Linked DNA regions of Homo sapiens. The gene in region 1 interacts genetically with each later gene. Each region holds a gene or a part of one and is shown on either strand. Other genes may lie near its edges. The genes, in order: ARL5A and TRAPPC10.

Evidence for each region.
Region 2: changes in ARL5A (region 1) and TRAPPC10 together harm fitness more than expected from each alone (negative genetic interaction), as found in Homo sapiens cells (one large-scale study listed by BioGRID).

What each region holds. Positions count from the first base shown.
Region 1 is NC_000002.12:151,798,096-151,801,481, reverse strand, and holds the end of ARL5A (ADP-ribosylation factor-like protein 5A), read left to right. Parts: 3' UTR 1-2,685; downstream 2,686-3,386. UniProt on the Homo sapiens protein: Lacks ADP-ribosylation enhancing activity.
Region 2 is NC_000021.9:44,088,604-44,092,426, forward strand, and holds part of TRAPPC10 (trafficking protein particle complex subunit 10), read left to right. Parts: intron 1-1,229; coding exon 1,230-1,330; intron 1,331-3,319; coding exon 3,320-3,446; intron 3,447-3,823. UniProt on the Homo sapiens protein: Specific subunit of the TRAPP (transport protein particle) II complex, a highly conserved vesicle tethering complex that functions in late Golgi trafficking as a membrane tether.

The DNA.
Region 1 (3,386 bases):
ATTACTTGTTATCTATTAAAAATCTCCTTTACCCAAATCTGTATTATGGTTTCGCCAGACAAATATTATGTGATGTAGCCCAGAAAATCCACACCTTTTGTCCTTTTTATGTTTTAATTTGAATAATCATGTGCTTAGTCCCTTGGATTACTGCCACATCAGTTTAACACGATATCAGCACATTCCCTTGTCATCATCAAGGTGTTGGCTCAGATTTATTCTTAATTGGATGTTTAAAGCATGTACTACCTTGTTACAGTTGGTTTAGTGTAGTGGATTATTGACATGACATCATGAGAAGATGTGTAATTTTATACCACATTTATAAAACATGATTTTGTTTTCTACCCTTCAAGGTAAACATTAAAAATAAGGTGGTACTTGTGTACTTGTACATAAAACCAAAATTATAGTTGGGAAAAAAATAAATTTATATATGAAAATGTCAAAATCATTTTAAAAGTATTATTTTCAAATAAAATGGAGAAGCTGGTGAAAAGTCATATTGGCAATTTTTATGTAGTTTAAGTGGAATTAAGCAGAGGGAGATGCTTTTGGGTTTTTAATATGCCACTTCTGAGTGAAAACATCTCGTGGAGTCATTGTGTTCAGCTCTGAGAAGAACAAAGATTCATAGTTCTGTACATGTGGCTGGATTTAAATATCCTGTTTTTGATACTAATTTTGAAAGTCATGTAACTTCTTTTGATATCTGGGCAAAAGTAACCATATGCTATAAGCATTTGAATATGTTTAATTTTATCATAATAGCATCTGTAAAAGTACATCTTACACATTATATAGAGGGTTCTTGTTTGAAATTTTCAGTTCTCTTTATCTTCCCAGTACCTCTTGGTCCTCATAATGGGCAAAGGATACAACGAAGGCAGGTTGTATAGGGGTTATAGTGGGGAAGTGGATAGGGGATTCATTTTCTTATGTGACATTTTGCCTTAAGAATATAAAAGTGCTTTAGCACTGATGGCTGGCATTTTTAATATAGGCAGTGAAAGTGACTTTAGAAGCATGGGATGAAATAGAGGGAAGAAGAGTTTTTATTTTCTGGCCTTTAAAAAGTGCCTAGTAGGTCATTTGAGACCCAGAGAAATGCACAGAGCTTGAGCAAAGGCATGAAGTCCCTGACATTGTTTTCCTTTTTGTCTCAGCATATAGTATTAAGATGCCTAGAAATAGGACTCTATTGTTCCCTCTTGTATAGGCACTTTACATTTCTTGTCACTACAGCAACCACATACAGTACAGACAACCTCCAAACCTGTTTATATTAGTGTAAATAGAAAATCTATAGACAACTTTCTAGTTTTCTCTGGAGGCATTTTTGGGAATGTACGTGTAATAGGCTCTGCTTTGTATACAGGAGATAATACCACATCATCGGTTATCTCCAAACTCCAGTCTTCTCTCAACTGCCCAGTTGTATGTTGTCATCAATCACTTTTTCAAGGCTGGGTAGAGACAAGTTTCTCCTCGTAACTTTGACCTCTCCCACTCTCCAAATGTAATCTGGACCTCATTGCTTTCAAGGTCAGCTTCCCCATAGCTCAGGTATCCTTTGCTCTCCTGTATCTTCATTTACTATTAGTGAAGAGATCTCTGTCCTGGAGGTTATTCTAAACTTTCTTTGTAACTATTGTTATAGACAATGGTTTCCAAACCAGTGGTTTCTATGTAGCTTTTCTAGTTCCTTGCTATCTTCTCACCACTGGCTTGAGGTAGTGATTTGGACTTTGCTCATTAGAGAGCATTATCAGAGATGTGGAGTCCATCAGAAGACCAGCTTGCAGTGTGTATAGCATATAGATGCCAATATTAGAATTCTTTAAATTATATTTAACATTTTCATGCTTCTTAATTTAACTTCACATGTTGGGAAGTAGATTCAGAAAGATAGGAGAAATACCCAGACTCTACCACTTCCGTGAGCTACTAGTTAGGCATGGGCAGGATTAAGTTTTATGTGTATTATCTTCCCACTACCAAGAATGGTTATGTTTCACAGAATACCAGTTCAGTTTGATTTGGAAAAAGATGCCAAACCAAATTTATATGTAGTCTATAATCTAAGGGCATTCTTGAAACTATTGCCCACATCCCATTTTTTTTTTCATGTTTACTTACAAAACAGAGATAAACATTAGATGTCTAAAGGAGTTAGTAATGAAAAGCCTATCCTTAAAAAATAAACCTGTTGAAATGGGCTTTAAAGACATCGAAATAATCACTTGTCATGCATTGACTGTAAATGCAGATAGAGAAATATGTCTTTGAAGCTCCACTTACACAAAAATAAAACTTGTATATCATGCTCCCTCAAAGAATGTGCGATAGATTATTTTAAGACCATGATAATAGAGTAAAAAGGAAAGAAAGCCAGAAATTACAATTTTGGATGCTAAAAAGTAACTTTCTAGTTAACCCTAAAGTCCTGTCAGATTGTGAAGAAATGTTCCAGGATACACTTGGATTAGTTATGCAGTATTTCTTATCAATGTCTAGCCCTTGTGTATTGTTCTGAAAACTAAAGTTTAAATCTTTATGCTGTTGCTTGCTAGATATCCTGTTCTTTGGTAGAAAATTCCCATAGTCTGTACTCAAGAAGTGCCTAAAAATGGATTTGTGTTGATTTTAAGCCCATCTAATAAATTATATGTATTTTCTATGGTATCGTATGGCTTGTCTTAACTGATGACACAGCCTAGAGGATTTCTGTCACAATTTGTGCTTTATTTGAATACAAAGTCTTTTTTTTTTTTTTTTTTTTTTTTTTAGACAGAGTCTCACTTTGTCGTCCAGGCTGGAGTGCAGTGGCGCGATCTCGGCTCACTGCAACCTCTGCCTCCTGGGTTCACGCCGGTTGTCCTGCCTCAGCCTCACAAGTAGCTGGGACTGCAGGCGCCTGCCACTACGCCCGGCTAATGTTTTGTATTTTTAGTAGAGATGGGGTTTCACCGTGTTAGCCAGGATGGTCTCAATCTCCTGACCTCGTAATCTGCCCGCCTCAACCTCCTAAAGTGGTGGGATTACAGGTGTGAGCCACCGCGCCTGGCCTAAATAAAAAGTCTTGAAATGGAAGATATTCACCTAACCCTCAACAAACCATGATGTAATGAAGCACGAATCACACCATTTTGTCTCTTTCCTAATTCAAATAGGTCCCTGGCATTAGTTCATGCCGAGACTAGAAAACTGAACCCTAGTACTGTTTTTTAAAACAGTTTTAACAGAAAATTAAACTGTATGTTTGAAATCATAAGTAAAAGTTTGTTGCTTGCATAAGAGTAGCCTCTTGATTCTCATAGTGGTAATTTTGTGTCATATCATTTAGATGTTGAACCATTTCATTTGTGCATGTGTATATGTGCCCA
Region 2 (3,823 bases), on another chromosome or scaffold:
ATGTTCAGCTTTTGAAGAACCTGAGGAAGTGTCTTTCCCTTAACTCACACAGACGTTCACCATTCACGAAGGTGGCGCTTAGCTCAGCAGGAGCGCGCAGCACTGGTGGCACCTGTGCTATGTGCCGTGTTATCCCGCTCTTCCCTGGCGCTGGTGGCACCTGTGCTGTGTGCCGTGTTATCCCACTCTTCCCTGGCGCTGGCGGCACCTGTGCTGTGTGCCATGTTATCCCACTCTTCCCTGACACTGGCGGCACCTGTGCTATGTGCCGTGTTATCCTCTCTTCCCTGGCGCTGGCGGCACCTGTGCTGTGTGCCGTGTTATCCCACTCTTCTCTGGCGCTGGCGGCACCTGTGCTGTGTGCCGTGTTATCCTCTTTTCCCTGGCACTGGCGGCACCTGTGCTGTGTGCCGTGTTACCCCGCTCTTCCCTGGCGCTGGTGGCACCTGTGCTATGTGCCGTGTTATCCTCTCTTCCCTGGCGCTGGTGGCACCTGTGCTATGTGCCGTGTTATCCTCTCTTCCCTGGCGCTGGTGGCACCTGTGCTGTGTGCTGTGTTATCCTCTCTTCCCTGGCGCTGGTGGCACCTGTGCTATGTGCCGTGTTATCCTCTCTTCCCTGGCACTGGCGGCACGCACGCTGTGTGCTGGGGTATTCACCTCTTCCCTGTGGGGAATAAGGCTTGAGACTTGCTTCCTTCCTGCCCTTAAGGGATGTAATAGCTTTGTCCTCACTGTGCCCCTAAACTGATTTGGTTTTCAGTTACATATTCAGCCTCACATGGATTAAATGCTTAGATAATTCATTAACTATGGAGTAGTTACTGATTGGCTAATGTCATCTGGAAATACATGACTGAAAGCACTTTGTCAAAACCCTGTGCACATTGCAACATGCATGGCTCCGCGGCCCTGCGTGTATGGGAGCAGCAGGTGGGTCTGCTGCTTAGAGGACGGCTGTGCTCTTCCGCCGTTGAGGTGACTCTGGTGATGTGTGCATGTCTTGCCAGTTCTGCGTTCGTTTCTCTTGTCTGTATGCATAGCTTCCTGTTTCTCGTTGGTTTGTGTATGTGTTGGGTAAGGCTTTGCTTCCTGGATAATGAGTGGTTGAAGCCATAATAAAATGTCTAGGGCGTGGGCGGGCACTGCAGGTGAGTCTGGGCAGCAGTGGTGGTGGCTGTGCTGTCCGTCGGCGAGTGGTCTGAGAGTGTCTTTGTGCTTCCTCCTCAGGTGTCGATTGACTGCCCGTGGTCCATCTACTCCACAGTCATCGCACTGACCTTCAGCGTACCCTTCAGGACCACACACAGCCTCCTGTCCTCAGGAACACGGTAACGGAGGCGTAGCGTGCGGGCCCTGGCTTCTTTCCCCAGACTCTTCTAAGTGGAGGTTCCTAATGTTCAAAACTGGCCTTCGTGGTGACCAAGGATGTCTTCTTATGTGACCACAAGGCCATTGTTTGTGTCTTAAAATCCACAATTCCCTGGTGTCCTGTGACATCCAGTTCATATTCAGGTTTTCCCAACTGTCTGAAAATGACCTTTTATGGTTGCTTTGTGTGACTTGGGGTCCAAAATCTCCATCAGACCACTAGATCTCTGTTCATCCTTTCTTCCCTGTTTTCAAGCCATCGACTTGTTCACTTGCAGGCCAGGTTTCCTCTGGACGCCCGCCTTTCTGGATCTGGCTGGATTTGTTAACTAGTTCTCCTGTCCCTGTATTTCTTGTCAATTGCCTGCAACCTCTAGAACAGGAGCTTTTAAGCTCAGCATTAGTGACATTTTGGGCTAGATAACTCTGTTGTAGGGGCTTTCCTGTGTGCTGTAGGGTGTTGAGCAGCACCCCAGGCTCTCCCATGAGATGCCAGTAGCACTCCCCACCTGCAGGTGTGGCAGCCACAGATGTCTGTAGACACTGCCCAGTGTCCTCTGGGTGGGGCGGACGTGCCCCAGTGGAAAACAGCTGCCCTAAAGGCTTGAGTAGACTCCAGTTCTGCTTTGAGGCAGGCGGGGCTGTGTGCTTCCTGTTGACTGCACCGGGAGGCCCACGGTGTCCAGGTGTCCTACCTTAGTGACGGTGCTAGCGTTGATCAATGGGCTCGGGATGCTAGCCTGGCCTCTCACCACAACTTTTTATCCATTGATGATGTGTGGATAATTTGGAAACAAAAACGTCAGACCCATGTTTAGAATGGAACATTATACTAGCAGCTTTTTTCCCCTTCAAATCACAGCAAAGGGAACTGTAGATATTAATAGTTAAAAACATCAATAATCTCTAAAAGAACCTTATTAAAAAATTATTTTTCAGCCGGGCGTGGTGGCTCATGCCTGTAATCCCAGCACTTTGGGAGGCCGAGGCAGGCGGATCACGAGGTCGGGAGTTCAAGACCAGCCTGACCAACATAGTGAAACCCCGTCTCTACTAAAAATACAAAAATTAGCCGGGCATGGTGGCGGGCGCCTGTAATCCCAGCTACTCGGGAGGCTGAGGCAGGAGAATCACTTGAACCTGGGAGGCAGAGGTTGCAGTGAGCTGAGATCGTGCCATTGCACCCCAGCCTGGGCGACAAGAGCAAGACTCTGTCTCAAAAAATAGTAACTATTATTAATATTTTCAAAGTTTTGCATGTAATGGAAATGGATATAAGCCCCGCCTATCATCTCTCAATGGAGAGTCTTCACCTGTAATGAGGAGGGCTGCTGCTGTCTCCCCGTGGCTCCCCAAAGGCCAGTGAGGGTGACCAGCCATGATCACTTAATAAGGCTGGTCAGAAACTATATTCTTTCTTCCATTGCCTCACAGAACTTGCCTCTTTAAAAACTTTTTTTATTTATTTTTATTTGTTATTTTTTTGAGATGGAGTCTCGCCCTGTCACCAGGCTGGAGTGCAGTGGCGTGATCTCAGCTCACTGCAACCTCCACCTCCCAGGTTCAAGCAATGCTCGTGCCTCAGCCTCCCGAGCAGCTGGGATTACAGACACGTGCCACCACGTCTGGCTAATTTTTATATTTTTAGTAGAGATGGGGTTTCACCATGTTGGCCAGGATGGTCTCAATCTCCTGACCTCATAATCTGCCCACCTCGGCCTCCCAAAGTGCTGGGATTACAGGCGTGAGCCACCGTGCCCGGCCAAAAAGGTTTATTTTCTGGCACTTTTCGGTGTGAAATCTGAAGGGAAACTTATGCAACAACTTAGCTTACTTTGCTTTGTTGCTTTTTTGATTCCCCAGGCAGAGAGGGTCTCCTTAACAAAGCTAAGATATATTTAATAAAGTTCTTACATATCAAAATAATACTTTTTGTTTTTCCACTTTAGGAAATATGTTCAAGTTTGTGTCCAGAATTTGTCAGAACTTGACTTTCAGCTGTCAGATAGTTATCTTGTAGATACCGGTGATAGTACCGACCTGCAACTAGTACCACTGAACACGCAGTCCCAGCAGGTAAACATTGTGTAGACCTGAGCATAAACTTCTCAACAGAGAACCAGAGTGTACGGAAATGATGTAGTATGTGTTGCGACTGAGCCTTTAGATAGAACAGCTGCACTGCTGATGAGTAAAGGCTCCTGTGCAGCTCCTCCGGCTGCCCTGAGGCTGGATCGAGGCTTGCTCCTGAGTAAGCGGGTGGCTGGATGGATGAATTCTTCTTTTTAGAAGAATTAAATCTGAAACTGGTCCCACTCTATGCGTAGACGTGTGCAGATCCAAGCTTCTGTTTGAACGCACTGTTGATTGCATGGGCACTGCTCCACTCTGCCCAGAGCCTGATGCCTGCCAGTGCCAGAGCGATGGTGCCCGACACCTTGGTGCCTTTGTAA